Linked DNA regions of Homo sapiens. The protein of the gene in region 1 interacts with the protein of each later gene in a pairwise test. Each region holds a gene or a part of one and is shown in the gene's direction. Other genes may lie near its edges. The genes, in order: RBM10, ZNF317, ZFP64, TBC1D22B, CBLL1, RBM12B and ZNF473.

Region 1 (3,500 bases):
CGCCAAGCAGAGTTGATCCTGGAGGAAGCAGTGAGGGAAGCGGCAGTTGCAAAGGCACGGAGTGAGTGGGGGCAGAGGAAAGGGAGCAGTGGGGGCATTGAAGGGCAGGGCTGGCAAGAGTGCCAGGGGTGTCCTCTAACATTGGGCCCCTTCCCACAGCCATCATTTTGCGCAACCTGAACCCACACAGCACCATGGATTCCATCCTGGGGGCCCTGGCACCCTACGCGGTGCTGTCCTCCTCCAACGTGCGCGTCATAAAGGACAAGCAGACCCAACTGAACCGCGGCTTTGCCTTCATCCAGCTCTCCACCATCGTGGTGAGGGCGGCACAGTTGGGGGCCGGGCAGCCAGGGTCCCGGCCCCCGGGGTGGAGACGAGGGTCCTTTTCCCCAGCCTCCCACCGCGGCTGCCAGCCTGGAAATCGGGCAATGGAGCCGGGGGCCTCCCCGGGCCTGACCCTTCTGTCCCTGCCTCCCCTCCTCCCACAGGAGGCAGCCCAGCTGCTGCAGATCCTGCAGGCCCTGCACCCACCACTCACTATCGACGGCAAGACCATCAATGTTGAGTTTGCCAAGGGTTCTAAGAGGTCAGGGCCCCACCTGTGTGCCTTCCCACCCTTCCCCTCCCCACCCTCCCACTCCCCCCTACCGCTTGGGGCCTCCTATCTCACTCCCAGTCTCTAACATCCTCCTCAGGGACATGGCCTCCAATGAAGGCAGTCGCATCAGTGCTGCCTCTGTGGCCAGCACTGCCATTGCTGCGGCCCAGTGGGCCATCTCACAGGTACTCAGACCCCTTGTGCCTCCCAGCGTCCTGAGACCTGGGCTTTCTCAACCCTCCTGCACCCTCTCTGAAGCAGGAAGGCTGGCTTGCTATCCATGGATGCAAAACCCTCTCCCAGTAGCTGGCATGGCTATTCTACCTTGCTCCTGGCTCTCTAGACCCCCTGGGACATTCCCCTTCATCATCACCGCAGCTTTCTTCCCAATTGCCTCCCATGCGCTCATGTACGACGCCATTGTGCCTGGCATTCTGTGCTGTTTGGTGGGGTTTTTATTGTCCTGAATAGGTATGATATACACATATCCTTATATGTAATATATACATATATGATATACACGTATCATATGTTCCTGAATAAAAATAACGTATAAGTGGTTGAGAGAAAATTGGGAGAAGAGAATAAAGAAGTAAGAAGATGGTGTCTTCCTTGGCCTGACACCCAACACACACGCCACACACAGCAGAATCAGCAGAATCAGCCCTGGAACATTTTGGCGTTCATCTGTTTTTCTGTCTTGTGTTTGCCACTGGCCTATTTGTTCTCTTGTGGCCAGGCAACCCTCGCTTTCCACTTGTCTTAAGGCTGCATGCTTTGTCTGTCAGGTAGAAATACTAGCCCCACGTGTGGGACAGATGCTTCTAGCAGGTTCCCCACCCCCCACCCCCACACCTTCCTGTTCTAATGAACCCCTCCCACCTGCCCTTCAGGCCTCCCAAGGTGGGGAGGGTACCTGGGCCACCTCCGAGGAGCCGCCGGTCGACTACAGCTACTACCAACAGGATGAGGGCTATGGCAACAGCCAGGGCACAGAGTCTTCCCTCTATGCCCATGGCTACCTCAAGGGCACCAAGGGCCCTGGCATCACTGGAACCAAAGGGGATCCCACTGGAGCAGGTGAGCCCCAGCATCTCTCTCTGCAGCTGTGGTGGGGGCCAGCAGGCATAAAGTCCCCGGCCCCATTATTCACAGGCATTGTCCCTGCCCTGTCCCTCCTTACAGGTCCCGAGGCCTCCCTAGAGCCTGGGGCCGACTCTGTGTCGATGCAGGCTTTCTCTCGCGCCCAGCCTGGTGCTGCTCCTGGCATCTACCAACAATCAGCCGAGGCGAGCAGTAGCCAGGGCACTGCTGCCAACAGCCAGGTGAGTGAGCCCTGTGGGTATGTATCCCGGGGAGGCAGGCAGGCGGCAGGGGTGGCATGGGCAGACACTGAGCCCTGTTCTCCTGTCTGGCCCCATGACCAGTCGTATACCATCATGTCACCCGCTGTGCTCAAATCTGAGCTCCAGAGCCCTACCCATCCTAGTTCTGCTCTCCCACCGGCTACCAGCCCCACTGCCCAGGAATCCTACAGCCAGTACCGTGAGTAGCCACAGCCTGTGGGTAGGGGTGGGGAGTTCTTAATAAAGCAGGGAATAGTGTGACCCCGTTCCCCTCACCCCCTAGCTGTTCCCGACGTCTCTACCTACCAGTACGATGAGACCTCCGGCTACTACTATGACCCCCAGACCGGCCTCTACTATGACCCCAACTCCCAGGTAATAGGGCAGCCCAGGGAGGGATGGGATCGGGTCAGGTCGCGTCAGGAACAGCTAGCCCTGCAGGTTCCCTTCACAAGGTCTTCCCTCACATCCCCTCTTCCCTCCTCCTCCCTCAGTATTACTACAATGCTCAGAGCCAGCAGTACCTGTACTGGGATGGGGAGAGGCGGACCTATGTTCCCGCCCTGGAGCAGTCGGCCGACGGACATAAGGAGACAGGGGCACCCTCGAAGGAGGGCAAAGAGAAGAAGGAGAAGCACAAGACCAAGACAGCTCAACAGGTGAACACCAGGGTCCAGCAGTCACTGGCTGGCTGTGTGGTGTCTTCCAGCAACGGCACTCTGTCAGCTCTTGCCCTCTCCTGCCAAGGGAGATGGCGGGCAGGTGTGGATGTGGGCAGTGACTGCTTAGCAGACCATGCTCTTGCCCCAGCTCTGCTCTTTGCTGAATGGCCTTGAGCCAGAGCAGTCTCCTCAGTGTGTGGCAGGGTTGCCCAACTCCAGGAGGTGGCTTGTGCCATCCGAGTGAGCCCTGTCAGGTGTCTTCTGTCCCATGGTGGGGACCCTCACATTCTGCTGGTGAATATACATGTATGCCAGAGAAATTCTCACAGGCCATAAGGGGGTGGGCAGGAAAAAAGCCCTGCAATGTTTTGTGGGAGTGGGCAGATGGAGGGCACCTCAGTGTCTCTCTGTGGAGAAAGGGTGTGACACTGTGAGCGTAGCGTTTACAAGCAAGCACTAAGTGTTACCTTAGCAACCTGATGAATTCTAAAAATGGTGCTGTGCTGGGGGGAACATGGAAATATAGAATGTGGCATTGTGTCATGCATATAAAGTTATACACAAATAAACATTCCTATGCATTTTTAAATGATAAAATGGAAATGCACAACAAATGTGACAGCGTGGGTGTATGTCAGGGGAAGAGGAGTGTCTTCATCCATTTGCTGCTCCATAACAATACCACAGACTGGGTAATTTATAAGGAAAAGAGATTGATTTGGCTCACAGTTCTGTAGGCAGGGAAGCCCAGTGGTGTTGGCATCTGGTGAGGGCCTTCTTGCCGCATCATAACATGGCAAAGGGCAAGAGAGCATGCATGAGAGCAAGAGAAAATTGGGCCAAACTCCCCCTTTTTATCTGGAACCCACTCAGTGATGGCATTAAATGGAG
Region 2 (3,500 bases), on another chromosome or scaffold:
GAGAATTATGGTCCTGAGAAAGCTCATAATGGAACAGTTTTGGGCAACATTTGTTTTGGACCACAAACTTGATGGAGGAGGCAGATCTTCTAAAACTGAGGAGCAGGGCTGGAGCAAGGGTGAGGTTTGTGAGTGCAGAGCCAGGGAGCCACTCGCTCTGAGCCAACCTTGTGCTTGTCTGACACCAGAAGTGCTTCCTTAAATACCACACTCTTGTCTAGCAGCCTTGGTTGCCTCATCCCAGTCCTGGCCCTGGTGAGGAGAAAAACAGATCCCAATGAGAATAGAGTAAGATGTGTAGAAATAGAAAAATAGAACTGCTTTCACCATGCTGTAAAGAAAATTAAAAGAGAAATTAAGCAACCCCAACAGCTCTGAAAAATTAACCTGTCCGTTCTAACTCATCCATGGTGACAGCATTCCAATGACACTGGTTTTTTTTTTTTTTTTTTTTTTTTTTTGAGATGGAGTCTCGCTCTGTCGCCCAGGCTGGAGTGCAGTGGCACAGTCTCAGCTCACTGCAAGCTCTGCCTCCTGGGTTTCACACCATTCTCCTGCCTCAGCCTCCTGAGTAGCTGGGACTACAGGCGCCCGCCACCGCGCCCGGCTAATTTTTTGTATTTTTAGTAGAGATGGGGTTTCACCATTCACAGGATGGTCTCAATCTCCTGACCTCATGATCCGCCTGCCTCAGCCTCCCAAAGTGCTGGGATTACAGGCGTGAGCCACCACGCCCGGCTGATCCTGGTTTTGTTTCATGTATCATGTAGAAACGGGGCAGAACGTCTCTGAGTTCATAGATCCTACAGCTGTTCTAGACACCCTGCTCCACATCCTGCTGGGGTCGCTTAGATGCTGAAATCTTCCTGCTTTATTTGTATTCATGGCCACCAGTTCTTTGAGACTCTCTGATACAGTTTGGATGTGTATCCGCCCCCTCCCCCCCTCCAAATCTCATATGGAAATGTAATTCCCAATATTGGAGGTGGGGCCTGGTGGGGGGCGATTGGATCAGGGGGGCAGATTTCTCATGAATGGCTTAGCACCATCCCCCTTGGCACTGTCCTCGTGATGGCGGGTGAGTTCTCCTGAGATCCGGTCATTTACACGTGTGTGGCACCTCCTCCCAACCCTGCTGTCTTGCTCCTGCTTCACCATATGCTTTGCCTGCTTCCCTTTTGCCTTCTGCTATGATTGGAAGCTTCCTGAGGCCTCCCCAGAAGCAGATAGCACTGTGCTTCCTGTAGAGCCTACAGAACTGTGAGCCAATTAAACCTCTTTTCTTATAAATTACCCAGTCTCAGGTATTTCTTTATAGCAGTGCGAGAATGGACTAATACACCATCACCCAGCACTGACAACCCCTGAAAGTGATAGAATCACTCAGGTGAGAACTTGGCCAGAAGCTCCACTCTGAGCTCTGGTTTGCATCGTTGCAAAACATCGACAAGGTTCCACAGACTGAATTGATGTGGGTGCGCTCTCTAAGCTCCAGCCCTCTGGACACTTTGTCCTTCATGGAGGGTGGTGGTGGATGTTGGCCCCAGGGTGTTGGGCTAAGCCATAGGGCTGTGTCCTAGTACCTGGATTACTGTTTAATTTCACAGGACCTTCTGAGGAGATCCCAGACCCCCTACATTCCATAGGCCCCTCCTTTATGGTCTCCCAAGGTCTGGGTGGCTGTCTCAGTATGAAGGCAAATGTAGATCAGCTTGCTCATCATCCATTCATTCTTTCATTCCCTACTTATTGTCTTATTTATATCAGGCACTGGAATGGTGAATGAAATATCATCAAAGTAAAAAGTCTCTACTCACCTGGAATGTATTTTCTAGTTGGGCATACAGGAAATCAAAACAAGTAAACTACATAGTGTGCATGGAGGAGACAGCAGAGAGATAATAATGCTTACCCGGTGTTCTGTGTCCTGTCCTACATTTCCCAGGATCCTTGGAGCTGGCAGGGGCATGTGACTAGTTCTGGCCAATGGGCTGCAAGTGCTTCAGGGTCAAAATATAGACGACAGAATGCATAGTTGTCCAGCTTCCTGCTCATCATCTATGACCAACATGGCCAAGGGTATCAGTTGGTTCAGAGACAAGTGGCATCCTTGAACAACAGGAAAACTTTTGACATCAGCCTGGGTTGAACAAGTGACATGAGCAAGGCGTAAACTTTCCATTTTATTGAGTCATTGAGATTTGGGTTTGTCTGTTTTTGCAGTAAAAAATAGAGCCTAATCTTACACAGAACATTACTTGGAAATTAGTGCTTTAGGGAAAAAGAAAAGGAGTGGAGAATTGGGATTGAAAGAAGCAGGGGTTTGCATTTTAAAAAGTGGCCAAGGCGGGTGGATCAGCTGAGGTCAGGAGCTCAGGACCAGCCTGGCCAACATGGTGAAACCCTGTCTCTACTAAAAGTACAAAAATTAGCCGGACACAGTGGCACACCTATAGTCCCAGCTACTTGGGAGCCTGAGGCGGGAGAATCACTTGAACCCGGGAGGCGCAGGTTGCAGTGAGCTGAGATCACACTACTGCACTCCAGCCTGGGTGACAGAGCGAGACTCCATCTCAAAAGAAAAGAAAAGAGTGGCCAGTGAATGCCAGATCAGGACAGGTAAAGTTGAATAAAGATCTGAAGGATGAGAGGGGGCCAGGCACACTGAGAATGTGGGGGAAACATTTCAAGCAGAGGAGCAGCAGGTGCACAGACCCTGAGGTGGGAGCATGGCTGGCGGGGCCTGATGCACAGCAGTGAGGCTTCTGTGGCTTGGGTGAGGGACCAGTGGCAGAGCGAGTTGTGGGTGAGGCGGCAGGGACCTGGGCCCTTGGTCTGAGTGAGATGGGACACCATCAGAGGATCTTGAACAGAGGAGCGGTGTGATCTTCATTTTACCCATAAAGTTACGGCTGTCATGGAAGCTAAGGGAAGTCAGGGACAGCAGCTGGGAGACCAGTTAGGAAGCAGTTGGAATGTTCTAGAAGAGAAGCGATGCCTTATGCCAAGGCAGTAGCAGTGTAGGTGGTGAGAAGCAACCAGATTTTTGTATTAAGTTTTAAAGTTAAGGCTGGCAGGATTTGCTGGTGATGCAGGTGTGGTTTATGGAAAAGAAAGAGGAGAGTTGAAGGTGATGACGAGCAAGGCTTTTGACTTGAGCCCCTGGGAGGCTGGAGCTGCCATCAACGTGGGGAGGCTGGTGGCAGCACAGTTGTAGGTGTTTAATGTGGGATCCTGTTGGCTGTTGCAGTAGGGATACTAAGTAGCCACCTGGCTGCCACTCACTCTGAGTCATTCTGGGTGGGGCAGGTGCCAGGGAGCGGAGAGTGGCACCCACTATAAATGAACAATTCTGTTAAGTAATTGTGAAATCGTCAGTGGTCATTTTATTTTAATGATAATGGCATTTTAGAGTGAATGTTTGTTTACTGAGCCTATAGAGTTCCATACATAACCCAGTGTTAAAGTCTTCAGTTTCCAGATGAGAAAACTGAGTTTTG
Region 3 (3,500 bases), on another chromosome or scaffold:
GGCCGAGGCGGGTGGATCACCTGAAGTGAGGAGTTCATGACCAGCCTTGCCAATATGGCAAAACACCTTCTCTATGAAAAATACGAAAACTAGCCCAGCGTGGTGTCACGTGCCTGTAATCCCAGCTACTCGGAAGGCTAAGGCAGGAGAATTGCTTGGACCTGGGAGGCAGAGGTTGCAGTGAGCTGAGATCGTGCCACTGCACTCCAGCCTGGGCAACAGAGTGAGACTCTGTCTCAAAAAAATAAAAATAAAAAACTTCATAAACAAATGTACAAGGATATTCATTTACAGCATGTACTATAGAGAAAGTGGAGCCTTTGTATGTATACGTCAAGAGAGAGTTAGGTATGGCCAGGTGCAGTGGCTCACACCTGTAATCCCAGCCCTTTGTGAGGGCAAGGCTGGAGGATCACTTGAGGCCAGGAGTTCAAGACCAGCCTCGTCAACATAGCAAGACCCCACCTCTACATTAAATTTTAAAAATTAGCCAGGCGTGATAGCACACACTTGTAGTCCTAGCTGCTCAGGAGGCTAAGGCAGGAGGCTCGCCTGAGCCCAGGAGTTTGAGGCTGCAGTGAGCTATGATCGTACCACTGCACTCCAGCCTGGGTGACAAATGAGACCCTGTTTCTTAAATAAAATAAAAAAGAGGGATTTAAACAAATAAATATCAAAGATTCCAACAATGGAATATGACTTAGCTTTGGAAAGGAGGAAAGTTGGATCTGTGTGTAGTCACAGAAAGATTCTCAAGGTAAGTATAAAAAAAATACATATGCCTACATATTATATGGTCTTATATTCCAGGGAAGTTTCTAGAACAGGGATGGGGCGGTAATGTAAATGAGAGAAGTTATCTTTGGGGGAGGTGTTAGAGAGTGGTGGGGACTGTGGTGAAGTAGAGAAATCACACATGCCTCATCCAAAAGTGCAGCTGTTCTTTGGATCCAGCCAGTTAGATATTTCAGTTTTTCAGAGAAGCTGAAAATGTGAAATTTTCCAAATATAAAACTTTGTTGCCAAACAATACATCTCTGAGCCTGACTGAGTCCATAAGTTTCTTCTAGCTTATTCTCAGAGAATGTTTACCCAATAGTCTGGAGCTGAAGAGTGAGGAGCATCAGACGTCAGGGCCAGGCGCAGTGGCTCACACCTGTAGTCCCAGCACTTTGGGAGACCGAGGCGGATCACTTGAGGTCAGGATTTCAAGACCAGCCTGGCCAACATGGTGAAACTCATCTCTAGTAAAAATACAAAAATTGGCCAGGCATGGTGTCACTCGCCTATAGTCCGTGCTACTTTGGAGGCCAAGGCACGAGAATCTCTTAAACCCAGGAGGCAGAGGCTGCAGTGAGAGTGCCACTGCACTCCCCACTGGGCAACAGAGTGAGTGAGATTCCATTTCAAAAAATAAAAAGGAAACCAACTTTCCCCTTATGAGGTATCTACTAGGGTGATGTTTGAATTTTTTTGGCAATAAGCAAAGTTTTGTGGGTTTTTTTCTTAATGCATCCAAAATAATGTTTCTACTGAGTTTTTTAAACAGTAGACATTTTGAAATACAATAAAACTGATCCCCTCACAAACCTTAACAAAAGTATGTTGAGATCTTCCCACTGTCTCCTGAGTTTATCTTCATTCCCATCTTAAAGGAAGTCACCAAGAAAAGGTGAAAACCAGAAAACCCTTAAAAGTGGGCCTGGTAGGACCTAATTATTTTGCACCAGGACCAAGCAAAGTTGCCTTTGGGGAAGGGACATGGCCAAGGTCCCATCGGAACTTCAGGACAGTCCTGGGACATGTGTTTTGCCCCTTATCGTAGTGGTCTTCTTCATGAGGACAGTGTTTCCTTTCTTGTCCTCGAAAACCAAAATCCCAGAACCTCTCACAGTGGATGGGAGCCATATAAAAATGGATGCCCTGCGTGTGGGAGGCTTCCAGGCCCACACTTTTTACTTGGGGCCATTGCTTCTTTCTGGGCTCTGAGCCTTCGTGGATGCTTTTTCCTTTGCCTGAAATACCTTTCCCACCTTGGCCTGGCTGATGCCAACTCAACCTCAAGGCCTTAAGTTTCATGACAATCTTCACAAAAAAGGGTCTGCATTCTTCCTGGGGACAATCCCCTTCTCTCCCCTCTATATTGCAGCAGCCATGATGAACTCCTTTCTGTTTCTGGAATGAGCCACATTTCCTCCAGGCTCAGACCTTGCCTGCATTGTTCCTTCTGCCTGGAACTGCCTTAATTCTTATGTCAGAGCTGGACTTAAAGGCATTTTCTCAAAGACCCCTTCCCTGCACGTCTCACTCTTTTCCCAGATCAGGTCATGTCCCATATTTAAATGATTAATAGAGGAATGACTTTAAGGTGTATCTCCATCACTGACCTGTAAGCCCCTCTCCTGTTCACCACTGGATCCCAGCACCAAGGCACTTATTATTTCTTGGGTGTGAACACTGCTCACATCTCATATGCATCAGTAAAGCTGACCTCACAACCAAATAGCGGCTCCCTTTTTTGTCCTCCTAGTTTTTTTGCTTGTTTCTTTGTTTTGTTTTTTGAGACAGAGTCTTGCTCTGTTGCTCAGGCTGGAGTTCAGTAGTGCAGTCATGGCTCACTGCAGCCTTGATCTTCTGTGCTCAAGCAATCCTCCCACCTCAGCCTCCCAAGTAGCTGGGACTACAGGCCTGCGCCACCATATCCAGCCAATTTTTAAATTATTTATAGAGATAGGGTTTTGCTATGTTGCACAGGCTGGTCTTGAACTCCTGGGCTGAAATGATCCTCCCATCTTGGGCTCCCAAAGTGCTGGGATTACAGGCATGAGCCACTGCACCCAGCACTTCTATTTCTTTGTTCAAAGAAGTTCACCCTCCTCTTAGCATTTACACGGCCCTGCGACCATTGGATCTTGCCATGCCGGAGTTTTGTTGACTGTCCTGAATGCTCAGGCCAGTCCTGGAGTCCTGTTTGTGCCTGGCACACAGAGCCCTCCCCTGCACAGTGCTGAAGGGAGCCACAAGCTCAGAGATAGACTGCTGGACTCGCATCCCAATCCACCACCTAACAGCCCTAGGCTGTGAGCAAATCATTTACTCTCCCTCTCACTAAACAGTCCCCATCTGTAAAAAGAGGTTATAATACCTAATCATCATTGCGTTATTGTGAGAATTCTGCGATAATCCACATAAAGGGCCTGAGATGGAGAAATTGGGTTCAATGAGCGATCGCTTTTATTAATGTAGAGTCTAATAAACAGGTGGCGAAAGGATGGTGAGATCTGCAGCTTGCGTTGTCTCCGTCTGACTCAGCTGCTCCTCCTGATGGTTCCTGCCTCTGTGCCAACTAAACAAGCAGAATTCTGCTTTCTTTTCTTTTTTACACTTATTAGATTGGTTTTCTGGGTGCAATTCCTCCTATTGTGCTTCAAGTTTCCATTGACTGGCAGTTCCCAGACCTGCCTATGGACCAAGATCCCCTGGGAGCTTGTTAAGGATAC
Region 4 (3,500 bases), on another chromosome or scaffold:
AACTCACTATTTGGCACCAAGAAAAGTTCCAAGTTAGGGTAGAAAGAAAACATTTGATTTTCCTTTAGAGTCACCAAAAAAGTTCTCAAAAGTTGCTGCAGCATCTGGAGTCTCTGTTAGCACCTTTAGAGTCACCAAAAAAGTTCTCAAAAGTTGCTGCAGCATCTGGCGTCTCTGTTACCACCTAAGGTGCCTTGGTGTGTTTGATATAAATGCAGCCCTTTCTCTGGGCAGTGAATGGGGTGTGGCTGGGTTCTGGCCCCTCGCTGCCCTTCAGCTGGGCACCTCAGACAGTGCACACAGGCAGCCACACCCTTGGGGAGGAAACACAATGCTGAACGGTTAGGTTTAAGGCTTCTCAGAATCCATACTCCTCACACAGCCCGTTCTCTTTCTTTTTCAAATGATCTCAGGTGATACATGCCTGAGGAACCCACTCCACAAACAGCAATCACTCCCTCTCCGGCCCATCATCCCCCTCGTTGCCCGGATCTCGGATCAGAACGCTTCTGGGGCCCCCCCAATGACTGTCCGGGAGAAAACCCGCCTAGAAAAATTCCGTCAACTTCTCTCCAGCCAGAACACTGACTTAGGTGAGTCCCTGTGAGCCCAGGCAAGGTAGGAGCTTTGGGTGACTGGAATTCTCAGAGACCTGGAAGCTACTGCTCTTTATTCTTCCTTCTTTTACTTTTCTAGCTTCTCCTGACCTGGTGCCCATTGCAGTGACATGCAGGTATTAAGTCAGACATATGTTACTAGAGATTATGGACCAAATTAGGTGGGACTGGTTTCTGTGGCCTGTAGACCCTAGTGCAACTATTCTGACTTTGGTCTTCCTTATCTCAAGGTGACTCTTACTGAAATCTACACCCACTGGTCTTTCCCTTCCCCTCTAACTTTCATCTCTGAGCTGACAGGACTGCTACTGCAAGGCCGTGTCCTTGGCACTTAGCTGCTCGGGGCTGTTTTGGGCTTTTCACTGTGCTTATGGGTAGCAGGTGGTGGTGGTGGTCTTACATGGATGGAAGGAGACATCAGGCAGTGCTGGTTGCGGTTTGCTTTAGAGCATTTGTGGAGAGTTAACCTAACAAGGCTGTTTTCTATTTACAGATGAACTGAGGAAGTGTAGCTGGCCAGGGGTTCCCAGGGAGGTTCGACCTATAACCTGGAGACTCCTGTCGGTGAGTTCTACCCACTGTGTAGAGAAATGTGAGCCTCACACAGCCCTTCTTGCCTGATGAGGTTAGTCTGGACACATTGGTCTTAACTCCATAGACTTCTCTAGTCCTACTGGATATGACAGAACTATGGGACTATAGTCCTATTTCTGTGCATAAAGAAATACATTCTTGAGAGTTTATTCACACACATGTAGTGGTACACAGACTTGTACCAATAGTCATGGTGTCATGTTCTTAACAGCGAGGAAGAAGAATAGAGTGAGATAGGGTGATCCCAGCACTTGCTTTGAGTAAGCTCCAACGTTCCCTGTGCTTCACTCCTGTTTCAGCCGGAATAACCAAAAGTTGAAACCCACTTTGATCTGTGAAGAGTTGATAAATTGGCCTCCCTTGGAAGCTTTACTAGTCCTGCTTTCACCAAGTACAGAGCACTGTGCCAGCCGCTATGATAGAAACACTTGGGTTTCCTGAGCCTGTAAAATTCATTCATTCATCTAGTGAGGATTTATTGAGAGCCTGCTGTTTGCCAGGCATAGTGCCAGATGCTTTGAGCAGATGCAAAAATGAATAAACCACAGTCCCCACTCTCCAGGCACTCACTGCAGAATGCATTACATAAATGTTTTCAAGAAGAAGGGTCTGTCTCCTGACTGCTCGCCCCCACCTCTACTCTTGCAACCATGCAATCATTGCCTCTGCCACTTCTAATAAGTTTGAATACTATTCAGAGTAGATTTGGTGAGAACGGAAGGGGAACAGAAAATATAAGAATGAGAGTGGGATCTAGACCAGGGATAAGAATGAAAGTTGGCCTGGAGCTTTGGCTAGGCCGGGGGCTGCTGCCAGAAGTTCTGTCTGAGTGTTGTAGCTGTATGTCACAGATTCCATTCAGCTGCTTCCTAAGCTGGTAATTCTGAAAGTTACACTGGAAAAGAATGTAACTGGCACCAACTTACTTGGCACACTGCTGAGATGTGCTGTAGAGGTTGCTATATCCCTGCATTTCTCAGAAGTATGGCCCTGGACACACACAGCCCTCCGAGGCCATGACTTGGGTCCAGCTCCCTCCCACTGACCTACATTCACTGCTGTACTGTGCCAGCTCTGGGAGCTGAGGAGTGCTCACCAGTGGCACAAGCTCCAGCACAGTGCAGGGCCAAGGGAGTAAATAATCCTGGGAAAGCTGGCCTTGCTTCATCTGCTCACATGTGGATCTCATTGAATGAGGAGAGGGCAAAAAATGGGTGGCCAGAACCAAAAAGGGATTTACCCTTGGCAGTTTTCCTTCTTGGTAGTTTCCAAACCACTGCATAGATTAAAATAAAAATTAAGGATTTATCCAACCATTGTCTTTCCCCATCTGACCAGCAGTCTTGTCTATAGGGCTATCTCCCAGCAAACACTGAGAGGAGGAAGTTGACCCTGCAGCGGAAGCGGGAGGAATATTTTGGCTTCATTGAACAGTATTATGACTCTCGAAACGAGGAACATCACCAGGATACCTACAGACAGGTACAGTCACCACCTGCTGCCTCTTTGCTTACCAGTCATATACTTTAGGTATGTCTCATGGTAGTGCTCTCAGGGTACAGGCTTTCCAAGTCTTCAGGCTGTGGTATATTGGTTAGGAGTTAAATTTATCCTCAAAACTGTTTCCCCTCTTTTCATTCAGCAACTCTGATTTTAGCCATTTTAAATAGACAGACTTTTTTGGCACTAGTCAGTGCACTGCTTCTCAAACTTTAATGTACATACAAATCACCTAGGATCTTGATAAGATCTCACCTAGAGATTATGAGAAAATGCAGATTCTGATTTAGCAGGTCTCAGGTAAAGCCTGAAGTTCTGATGTGCTCCCTTGCAATGCTGCTGCTGCTGGTCCACCAACCACACTGTGAGTAGTAAGCGTTATCGAGCATGGAGAGGAAAGACAAGCTTACCTAGCCGTGGTCCAGTCCCTCTGGACTATGACATCAGTATGTCTTCCTGGCAGCTGCACTGCTGTTTTGGCATCTGTGACTGTAGGAGCTGTAGCTTTCAGTAGTCTTGTCAGGGAGTCTTCTGTCATTGCCCATAATGGTCCTCATGGTCTGCGGAAAGGTCTGCTCCCAACATCACATGTGGAGGGAGGAGAAGAGTAGGCCAGGGGTTGCAGAAAGTGGAAGGTGGGCAGCTATTTACAACAAGCCTCAAGAACTGAAGTAGCCTCTGCTGCTGCTGCTGCTGACACAGTCTTTTGCATAGTTAGACTGGGCACTGGGAAATCCCTGAGTTGAAATGGACTATAGTGATGTCTTAGGTAACAGAAGTAAGAACTTT
Region 5 (3,500 bases), on another chromosome or scaffold:
ATGTTAAGAACCCTAATGATGAGGCTGATGTTACTTGTTGTAGTCCTTGCAATGTCTTCTACTTACTGTTTTCCACTTAGTATTATTTGCTCAACAAACAGTTATCACTCAATAATACCATACTAGTTTGAATTCCATGATTGTAAGTAATCTACCCGTTGGTTTTTTTCTTGCTGGGTTTTTTGGCAAATGGATGCAGAAGGTACAATTGTTTGAGAAAACTGGATAAATTCTAGGCCTTGGGAAGAATGAGGTCTCTTCTTGAAACATACCGTTTGATATTAGGAGTTCTGAAGTTGACAGAAATGCCTATCTTAATGGCTAACAGACAACAAAGTAGGGAAGATTAAAGGTTTGCGTAGAATAACTGTAACTTCTAATTGTGGACTTTTGCTATGTTTTATGTAACAGTCAAATTTTAAAAACAAGCATATTTTTGAAAATTACATAATTTTTTGTATTCTCTTTTAGTAAATCACATTTCTTTCCCTTCTAATTTAGCTGTAGTGATCCTGTGCAGCGAATTGAGCAGTGTACACGAGGTTCTCTCTTCATGTGTAGCATTGTTCAAGGGTGCAAGAGAACATATTTGTCTCAGAGAGACTTACAGGCTCATATCAACCATCGCCATATGAGAGCTGGAAAACCTGTTACCCGTGCTTCACTTGAAAATGTTCATCCTCCTATTGCCCCACCACCAACTGAAATCCCTGAGCGTTTTATAATGCCACCAGACAAGCACCATATGAGCCATATTCCGCCAAAGCAGCACATCATGATGCCACCACCTCCTTTGCAACATGTGCCACATGAGCACTATAATCAGCCACATGAGGATATTCGTGCTCCTCCAGCAGAATTGTCCATGGCTCCACCTCCACCTCGATCGGTCAGTCAGGAAACCTTTCGTATTTCAACAAGAAAACACAGCAATTTAATAACCGTCCCTATTCAGGATGACTCAAATTCAGGTGCTAGAGAACCACCACCTCCTGCCCCAGCACCTGCTCACCATCATCCTGAATATCAGGGTCAACCAGTGGTATCGCACCCTCATCATATTATGCCTCCACAGCAACATTATGCACCACCCCCACCTCCTCCACCACCAATAAGCCATCCAATGCCACATCCTCCCCAGGCTGCAGGTACTCCTCACTTGGTATATAGCCAAGCTCCACCTCCACCAATGACCTCTGCTCCACCACCAATAACCCCTCCCCCTGGACATATTATTGCCCAGATGCCACCTTATATGAATCATCCTCCTCCAGGACCTCCCCCACCTCAACATGGTGGTCCACCTGTAACTGCACCCCCTCCTCACCATTATAATCCTAACTCATTACCCCAGTTCACTGAAGATCAAGGAACTCTGAGCCCTCCATTTACACAACCAGGGGGAATGAGTCCTGGTATATGGCCTGCACCAAGAGGGCCACCACCACCTCCACGATTGCAGGGTCCGCCTTCTCAAACCCCACTTCCTGGACCACATCATCCAGATCAGACAAGATATAGACCGTATTACCAATGATAATAGTATTTTGAATGGAAGATATGAGGGGGAAAAAAACTTATGTGTAGTCAATCTTTTAAGCTTTGACTGTTTTGGGAAGGAAGAGTACCTCTTATCGAGGTAGTATAAAACACATAGGGTCTTGTTTCTTAAAATGGTTTTAAATCTTGACCTTAAGATTGATTTCAAGTACCATACTGTAGTACAGATAAGTGGCTCAGTTGAGCACAGCTATATTTTAACATCTCTTTGTTCCCCTAGTTTAGTAAATTGACCCAGAGGTGACCATTTGTAAAAAATTTGAAAAAATTTTTCATTGTTTTACTTCAAAAGTATTGTTTTGTTAAACCCAACGTTTAGTTTTTCTTGTGATACATTTTGTTAACCTGTGTAAAAGGATTAAATTTCAATATGGTTGTAAAAATGCTATTTTTATGTGAATTTAAGTGCAGCCACATACTGTTTTTTAAACCATATGTTTTACCACTAATTTCCCAAAGTTATAATAAAATCCTGAAAGTAAAAATCTACTAGAATTTGCTGTAAGGCAGACTGTTAAATGATAGAGAATTATTTCACATTTTAGGCACTGAAATGTTGAGGTTTCGAGGTATAGTAAGTATACAATGCACTTCACTTGGATGCCTTTTCATTTTTAGGCAGCCTCAGGAGCACCAAAATACATTGGAATTCTAGTACTAAGATATATTTGTTCGTAATGTTAAAAGACATTACTAATTATTTGGAAAGAGATGGCCAAAATAATCAACTCTACAGGCTTCAAGCTGGTGGGGGAATGCTGTTACTCATTAATGCTTTTTTACTGAATGGTCGGAATCACATATGCACCACACATACTGATCTTAAGTAACATTATTTTATAGAACTGTTTAAATGGGTTTAAATGGTGTTCTTTAGATGAAATGTGTTCTGTTTTGTTCATTGTCTTAAACTGAATAGGGCTGAATAGGCTTTATGTAATTCTTCATTTCATGGTAGAGTTTGATGCTGTGTTTAAGTGGGTTCTTGTTTATAGGATTTTCAACTACAGTTTGAATGCCATGGAGGAATTTGAATAATATATTAATGAAGGACATATTCTTGTAATCACAAATTTGCATTTGCTCAGGTTTCATTGCTGTGTGATAGGATTTTTCCTCTAACTTGAAATTTAAAAACTTTTATTTCCTATTCCTTTTGTCGGTAAAGCAGTCTGAATTTGGAACATTTTATCATGGAGTCAACAGTGAAGACTACCAGATAATTTTGTATTGGAGAAGAGGAAATAACAGCTAAATTGTGGATTTCAGTGCTTTACATGGTGCCTTTCGAGTCAGCTTTTACATTATAGGGGCTTGTTATAGTTTAGCTAAGATGACCACTTAACAGTTTATACAGAACTCATATGTATAAATCAACATTCTTAGGATATTATTTATATCCTTTGAATAAATCCCTGTGAAGTTTTTCCTCCCCACTAAAATGGTGCATAATAAAACATGAAATATGTAGTATGCAGATATCATTTATTAGATAGTTTGTAGTGTATACATTTAGAACATACTTCTTTTGACAAAGGGTGATCTGATTGCTAATTTACCATTTTATTCTGTCAGGTACAGGTGAAACAAATTCTCATCTTGAATGATCAGATGCAAAATCATTTCTGAACCCTAGAGCAGAAGTTAGAAATAACAAAATGGCCGTTTCAACCTTGACTGGCCAAAAATAACTAATAAACTTTTTTGTTTTAAGTCAGGCAAGTGATTTTCTACATTTAGCAGTTTGAAAGTCCAGTGTTAATGCAATATTTCTAGTGAGAAATGCTTGTTATTAAAAGCATGGGAGTGATAGTGTGAAATGGTGGTGAGTGCTTCTATCATATTACTGTAGGTACTTGGACTGGTGCAAACTTGATTCCTTTTCATCCCCCTGTTTAGGAGCTATTAAAATATTACTGTTAAAAATCCAAACCATTCTT
Region 6 (3,500 bases), on another chromosome or scaffold:
TTTTAAAAATTGATTTTTGAATTTCAGGCTTTGCTGTTTTATTCATTTATTGTGTAATTTTGAATGGTTGCCTTAATTTGATTTGGTCTTATGTTTTGAAAGGGAGGAGAACAGCACGAGAGTTGGATATAAATATGTACTAGATTTTTGGATTTTCATGTGGCAAAATGATTGAAGTTCTTTTTTTTTTTTTTTTTTTTTTGAACTTTGGGTATTGAGATTTTACTTGTAGAACAGTTTTTTGAAGTAGATGTAAAACTTGTGTACAGCAAAATGTATAGACCCTAAGGATAGAATTCAGTAAACCTTGATAAATTTATACACCCATGTAACTACTGCTGCATTCAAAATATGTAACATTTCCATCACTCCTTTCTTCGTGCTACTTCCAATCAAGAGCAGTTGTTAAATTTTCGGCAAGTTTCAAATTTTTAAATAATTTTTATATGTCTATTTGGATATTGTATCTCCTTTTTGCAGAAGGATGATTAATTTCCCCTTGGAACAAAAGACCATTTTGTAACACCCGTAATTGTGGTTCCTTATTCTGCTTCACTTTTGATAGGTAATTCTGAAATGGATATCCTACTCTGGCGTTGTTTAAGATAAATTACAGGGTTCAAGGATTAATTATATTTCATTTTCTTTCCACAGTTAAGTTGCTTTTACAGAGTTAACAGGTCTCCAAGAAATTTTAAAAAAGGTAAGATATCCAGAGTTTAAGGCTTTGAGGCTCAACAAAAAACATGTGAAGTAGAATAGTACATCTAGGTATCCATGGCTTCTGTTCTTTTTTTTTTAAAAAGACAGGGCCTCACTCTGTCCTCCAGGCTGGAGTGCAATGGCACAGTTGCAGCCCATTGTATCCTGAAAATTTCAAATTGGGCTCAGGCAGTCTTCCTGCCTCAGCCTCCTGAGTAGCTGGGACTACAGGTGCATGCCACCATGCCCGGCTAATTTTTTCTTTTTAGAGACGGGCTCTCGCTCTGTTGCCAAGGCTGGTCTTGAACTCCTGGCCTCAAGCGATCCTCTTGCCTTGGCCTTGCAAAGCCTGGAATTACAGGCATGAGCTATCATGCTGGCCCTGGCTTTTGTTCTCTGTGTCTGGCCAGTGGTAGGCAATTTATTATCATGAGCAGAAATTATATACTAACCATAGATGACTTTTCTAAATATGTAAAATTCATTGCAGTTGATAAAATAATCTACAAAGCTCTCATGTTTCAGTAGAAGATAAGATTCTAAATGAGTCTGAAAGTAGTTTGGTCTTGTGAAGCAGCATTTGGCAGACTTACAAAGGAAGATTTGATATTTTTGATGTTCCTATTGTATAGAATAGGTGATACGAAATGTTTCTTCAAGGTAGTTGGTTTATTTGTATTTTTAGATGGGAGAAAGTTTATCCCTTGTTTTCTTTAATAATTAGATATGATCAGTATTTTTGTGAACTTGTATCTTGTTTTCATTTATAAATGTTGAAGAAAGCAGGAACCAGGTAATTATTAAGCTTAGTTTGGGCTAAGGTACTTCAAAAATAAGACTTGCTATTATGTGTACCTTTTTGTCTGCAGGTCATTATTGCTGTGGTTTGAGCTCAGCATGGCTGTAGTCATCCGTTTACTGGGGCTTCCTTTTATTGCGGGGCCTGTGGATATTCGTCACTTCTTCACGGGATTGACTATTCCTGATGGAGGAGTGCATATAATTGGAGGGGAAATTGGGGAGGCTTTTATTATTTTTGCAACAGATGAAGATGCAAGACGTGCCATAAGTCGTTCAGGAGGGTTTATCAAGGATTCATCTGTAGAGCTCTTTCTTAGTAGCAAGGCAGAAATGCAGAAGACTATAGAAATGAAAAGAACTGATCGTGTAGGAAGAGGGCGTCCAGGATCTGGGACATCAGGGGTTGACAGCCTGTCTAATTTTATTGAGTCTGTTAAGGAAGAAGCAAGTAATTCTGGATATGGCTCTTCAATTAATCAAGATGCTGGGTTTCATACTAATGGTACAGGACATGGTAATTTAAGGCCAAGAAAGACAAGGCCATTGAAGGCCGAGAATCCTTACTTGTTTCTACGAGGTTTGCCTTACCTAGTAAATGAAGATGATGTACGTGTCTTTTTCTCTGGTTTGTGCGTGGATGGAGTAATTTTCTTAAAACATCATGATGGCCGAAATAATGGTGATGCCATAGTAAAATTTGCTTCATGTGTTGATGCTTCAGGAGGTCTTAAATGTCATAGAAGTTTTATGGGTTCAAGATTTATAGAAGTAATGCAAGGATCAGAACAACAGTGGATTGAGTTTGGTGGTAATGCAGTTAAGGAGGGTGACGTTCTTAGGAGATCTGAAGAACATTCTCCACCAAGAGGAATTAATGATAGACATTTTCGAAAACGGTCTCATTCAAAATCTCCCAGAAGAACACGTTCTCGTTCCCCTCTTGGATTTTATGTTCACTTAAAAAATCTGTCCCTCAGTATTGACGAAAGAGATTTAAGAAATTTCTTTAGAGGTACTGATCTGACTGATGAACAGATTAGGTTTTTATATAAAGATGAAAATAGAACAAGATATGCCTTTGTGATGTTCAAGACTCTGAAAGACTATAATACCGCTCTGAGTTTACATAAGACTGTTTTACAATATCGTCCAGTTCATATTGATCCAATTTCTAGAAAACAAATGCTGAAGTTCATTGCACGTTATGAAAAGAAGAGATCAGGGTCACTAGAGAGAGATAGGCCCGGACATGTTTCACAAAAATACTCTCAAGAAGGTAACTCTGGCCAGAAACTGTGCATCTATATAAGAAATTTTCCATTTGATGTTACAAAAGTTGAAGTGCAGAAGTTCTTTGCAGACTTTCTTCTTGCTGAGGATGACATTTACTTGCTTTATGATGACAAAGGTGTTGGTCTGGGAGAAGCATTAGTGAAATTTAAATCAGAAGAACAGGCCATGAAAGCTGAACGTTTAAACCGACGAAGATTCCTAGGGACAGAGGTGTTATTAAGACTTATATCTGAGGCACAAATACAGGAGTTTGGTGTAAATTTTTCTGTGATGTCCAGTGAAAAAATGCAAGCTCGCTCACAGTCACGTGAGCGAGGTGACCATTCCCATTTATTTGACTCAAAAGACCCACCAATATACTCAGTTGGTGCTTTTGAAAACTTTAGACATCAGCTAGAGGACTTGAGGCAACTGGATAACTTCAAGCATCCCCAGAGGGATTTCCGGCAGCCTGACAGGCACCCTCCAGAAGACTTCCGACACTCCTCAGAGGACTTTAGGTTCCCCCCGGAGGACTTCAGGCACTCCCCAGAGGACTTCAGGCGACCTAGGGAGGAAGACTTCAGGCGGCCTTCTGAGGAGGACTTCAGGCGCCCTTGGGAGGAAGATTTCAGGCGCCCTCCGGAGGATGACTTCAGGCACCCTAGGGAGGAGGACTGGAGGAGGCCCCTTGAGGAGGACTGGAGGCGGCCACTGGAGGAGGA
Region 7 (3,500 bases), on another chromosome or scaffold:
TGCTTTGCCTCATTCAACAAGTATTTACTCTGTGCCTGTCATGAGTGGGCTTTGTTGTAAGTCTGGACTAGGGAAACGGTTTAGGTGGTTCCTGCCCTCATGAAGCTTACTTTATTGCGGGTGACAGTGTATGAGCTTGCTAGGGCTGCTGTAACAAAGTACCACACACTGGGTGGCTGAAAACAACAGAAATTGGTGGTCTCCCAGTCTTGGAGGCCAGAAGTCTAAGATCAGGGTGTTGGCAGGGCTGGATCCTTCTGAGGCTGTGAGCCAGGCCTCTCCCCTGTGTTCTGGCAGATGGTGGCCAGCTTTGGTGTTCCTCGGCCTGGAGAGGCATCACCTCAATCTCTGCCTTCATCTTCACAGGATGTCCTCCCTGTATCTTCACATTGTCTTCCCTCAGCCTGTGTTTGTCTTTGTGTCCCCATTTCTCCTTTTTATAACAACTTCAGTCGTTTTGGATTAGGACCCACCCTGATGACCTCATCTCAGCTTGATCACCTCTGTAAAGACCCCATTTCCAAATAAGGGCAAATTCTGAGGTACTGGGGGTTAGAACTTCATTGTATCTTTTTAGAGGGTTACAGTTCAACCCATACCACACAGTAAAATGCATTAAGTAAATCCCATAGAATGCAGGCAGTATTAAGGATTATGGAGGAAAGGGATAGGGAGGCCCAGGGTAGATTTGCTGTTTTATACAGAGGGGTGGGAGAAGGCTTCATGGAGAAGAGGCATTTCAGCAGAGAACTGAGGGACACAATCTTGGCTCTAAGATGGGGTCTGGCAGGTGTGTTCAGGGAGCTGCAAGGAAGCTGGTGTGGCTGGAGCAGAGTGGATGAGCAGGAAAGGGGGAGAAGGTGAGCCCTGAGTGGCAGCTGGGGCCAGATCTTTAGGGCCCTGGAGATCATTGTATGGTCTCTGTCTTTAAATATGGTGAATCCGGAGGCCGTTGGAGGGTTTGGAGCAGAGGAGGGACAGGATTTGTTGTAAGCGGAAACAGGATCCCCCTTGCTCGTCCACCCAATTCCTGCTTAGCATCACCACTGGGACGACTGTTTCAGGGTCTTACTGCTGCTGTAACAAATAATACAAACTTGTGGGCTTAAAAACAACACAAATTTATTCTTTTACAGTTCTTCAGGTCTGAATCCCAAAATGATCTCACGGGGCTCAAACCAAGGTGTCAGCAGGGTGCGTTCCTTCTGGAGGCCCTAGGGAAGAATTCAGTCCTTGCCTCTCCCAGCTTCTGGAGGCTGCCTATATTCATTGGCTCCTGGCCGCATCACTCTAATCTCTGCTTCTGTCATGGCATCACCTCTTTTCTCCTGTGATTCCTTGTCTCCCTCTTATTAGGATCCTTGTGATGACATTTAGGACCAACCCAGATAATCTAGGATAATCTCCCCATTTCCAGATTCTTAATCACAGCTGCAAAGTCCCTTTCGCCATGTAAGATAATATTCATGGGTTCTGGGAATTAAGACAGGGACATCTTTGTGTGGGGTGGCGGCATTATTCGGCCATGACAATCTACAGGATATCTCAAACTTTACATGTCCCAAACCAAACTCAGACTCTGTCCTGAAAGCTGCTTCTCCTATGTCTCAGTAAGTGGCAACTTTGTCCTTCCAGCTGTTCAGGCTAAAAACGTAGAGCCATCCCAGGGTCTTCTGTCTTTCACACCCTCCATGTTATTCGTCAGGAAACCTTGTCAGCACCGTTATCTGAATATCTGGAATCTCACCACTTCTCACCCCCTCCATTGCTGCCACCATTTCTCACCTGGATTATCAAACTGGCCTTTTTCCTTTGACTCCCTGCTTCTGCCCTTCTCACCTTCTGTCTTTTCCCACGAAGCAGCAAGAGGAGGATGCTGTTTAGTATATGCCTAATTTAAAAAAGTTTTTTTATTGTAAAATCACAGGTGCAGAAATGCACACACATCAAATGCATGACCTAATGAAGGCGAACGCCACCTAGATCAAGAGTGAGAATTTTTTTTGCCATCCACCCCAGAAGTCCTTCGTGGGCTCTGTCATAGCCCTCTCGCATCCCCAATAAGTAACCTGATTTTTATGATTACCACTTGCTTTATTACTCAAATGCACAATCCCTTGCCCCTTCTTGTTTTTTAATGTCTTCTGTGTCTCTTAATCTTTGGGTTCCTCCTCCATCCCCTTCTGTTCTCAGCTGTTAGTTAGAGAACAGTTATTCGGTCCTTTGAGGAACTGGCATGGTTCGACCTGTAGAATTCCTCAGTCTGTTTTCTCTGGTTCCATCCTTGTGGTGCAGTTGAGTTTATTCCCAGTTGGCAGCTAGGTCCAGAGGCTTGATTAGACTCATGGTCAATCCTTTTACCAAGAATCTCTTGTGCCCCCTGTTTGTGGTCCTGGCAGATAGTGATGCTTTCTGCCTTATCACCTGTTCATTCATCAGGGCTTGCAAAATGGCGCTATCATTTCTTTTCATGTATTAGTTGGAACACTTTACAAGACATCCTTTGGCTGGGCATGGTGGCTCATGCCTGTAATCCCAGAACTTTGGAAGGCTGAGGTGGGCAAATTGCTTGAGCTCAGGAGTTCAAGATCAGCCTGGGCAACGTGGTGAAACCCCATCTCTACAAAAAATTTAAAAATTAGCCAGGTGTGGTGGTGTGCACCTGTAGTCCCAGCTACTCAGGAGGCTGAGGTGAGAGTATCACAGGAGCCCAAGAAGGTTGAGGCTACAGTGAGCTGTGATAGCACCACTGCACTCCAGCCTGGGTGACAGTGAGACCCTATCTCAAAAAAAAAAAAATTTATCTACTATTTGTCTAGTCGACGGTAGAGTTCATATAGGACAGGTAGGGTAAATGCTTGACTCTCCTTTTATTTGCTAGTTTTCACTATAAGGAATTGGTTTCCTTCTGTCATGTCATCCTTCAGAGGTGACCAGTTCTTTCATACGTGTGTGTGTGTGTGTGTGTGTGTGTGTGTGTGTGTGTTTGGCTGTTCTTAAGAGTTTTACAAAGCATTTTCATTGTAATTCAATGTAACACACCCAGGTTAAATCTCATAAGGACAGGAACTGGCTGCCCCCTTTTTTCCTGTACCTAGCACAGGGGCTGGCTCGTAGTAGGTGCTTGGTCATCATTGGACAGATAAGTAGACAACAAGCACCACTTATTTAGCAGCTTCTTAGTGAGTTGGGTCTCTGCTGAGCCCTGTGTAGGCATCAGCTCACTTCATCCTATAGCAGCCTTATTTTAGAGAAGAGGCAGGCTGAGCATTAGAGAGGTGGACTAACAAGGTCCCACAGTTAATAGATAGTAGAACTAGAATTTGAACTGGGACCTGTCTGACTCTAAAGCTGAGCCTCTAACAGGTCAGCCTCCTGGGGATTGTGTAGCAGATGGGAGCTCGTGCCACCCCACCACCTACTCACCGTGTGCTGTGGTTGGAATGTTTGTCCCCTTTGAAACTCTTTTTTTTTTGAGAGGGAGACTCTGTTTTCTAGGC

What was found.
Region 2: the proteins of RBM10 (region 1) and ZNF317 interact in binary tests that used the Homo sapiens proteins (3 or more experiments, as listed by UniProt).
Region 3: the proteins of RBM10 (region 1) and ZFP64 interact in binary tests that used the Homo sapiens proteins (3 or more experiments, as listed by UniProt).
Region 4: the proteins of RBM10 (region 1) and TBC1D22B interact in binary tests that used the Homo sapiens proteins (3 or more experiments, as listed by UniProt).
Region 5: the proteins of RBM10 (region 1) and CBLL1 interact in binary tests that used the Homo sapiens proteins (3 or more experiments, as listed by UniProt).
Region 6: the proteins of RBM10 (region 1) and RBM12B interact in a two-hybrid assay, tested with the Homo sapiens proteins (3 studies listed by BioGRID).
Region 7: the proteins of RBM10 (region 1) and ZNF473 interact in binary tests that used the Homo sapiens proteins (3 or more experiments, as listed by UniProt).

Annotation. Positions count from the first base shown.
Region 1 is NC_000023.11:47,179,721-47,183,220, forward strand, and holds part of RBM10 (RNA-binding protein 10), read left to right. Parts: exon of another isoform or gene 1-61; intron 62-159; coding exon 160-320; intron 321-491; coding exon 492-589; intron 590-698; coding exon 699-786; intron 787-1,494; coding exon 1,495-1,681; intron 1,682-1,786; coding exon 1,787-1,926; intron 1,927-2,028; coding exon 2,029-2,146; intron 2,147-2,230; coding exon 2,231-2,322; intron 2,323-2,441; coding exon 2,442-2,606; intron 2,607-3,500. UniProt on the Homo sapiens protein: Binds to ssRNA containing the consensus sequence 5'-AGGUAA-3'. May be involved in post-transcriptional processing, most probably in mRNA splicing. Binds to RNA homopolymers, with a preference for poly(G) and poly(U) and little for poly(A).
Region 2 is NC_000019.10:9,146,897-9,150,396, forward strand, and holds part of ZNF317 (zinc finger protein 317), read left to right. Parts: intron 1-3,500. UniProt on the Homo sapiens protein: May function as a transcription factor. May play an important role in erythroid maturation and lymphoid proliferation.
Region 3 is NC_000020.11:52,181,780-52,185,279, reverse strand, and holds part of ZFP64 (zinc finger protein 64), read left to right. Parts: intron 1-3,500. UniProt on the Homo sapiens protein: May be involved in the regulation of mesenchymal cell differentiation through transactivation of NOTCH1 target genes.
Region 4 is NC_000006.12:37,281,772-37,285,271, forward strand, and holds part of TBC1D22B (TBC1 domain family member 22B), read left to right. Parts: intron 1-413; coding exon 414-593; intron 594-1,110; coding exon 1,111-1,181; exon of another isoform or gene 1,182-1,242; intron 1,243-2,564; coding exon 2,565-2,693; intron 2,694-3,500. UniProt on the Homo sapiens protein: May act as a GTPase-activating protein for Rab family protein(s).
Region 5 is NC_000007.14:107,757,642-107,761,141, forward strand, and holds part of CBLL1 (E3 ubiquitin-protein ligase Hakai), read left to right. Parts: intron 1-501; coding exon 502-1,537; 3' UTR 1,538-3,500. UniProt on the Homo sapiens protein: E3 ubiquitin-protein ligase that mediates ubiquitination of several tyrosine-phosphorylated Src substrates, including CDH1, CTTN and DOK1. Targets CDH1 for endocytosis and degradation.
Region 6 is NC_000008.11:93,734,510-93,738,009, reverse strand, and holds part of RBM12B (RNA-binding protein 12B), read left to right. Parts: exon of another isoform or gene 1-654; 5' UTR 655-703; exon of another isoform or gene 704-1,571; 5' UTR 1,572-1,599; coding exon 1,600-3,500.
Region 7 is NC_000019.10:50,032,505-50,036,004, forward strand, and holds part of ZNF473 (zinc finger protein 473), read left to right. Parts: intron 1-3,500. UniProt on the Homo sapiens protein: Involved in histone 3'-end pre-mRNA processing by associating with U7 snRNP and interacting with SLBP/pre-mRNA complex. Increases histone 3'-end pre-mRNA processing but has no effect on U7 snRNP levels, when overexpressed.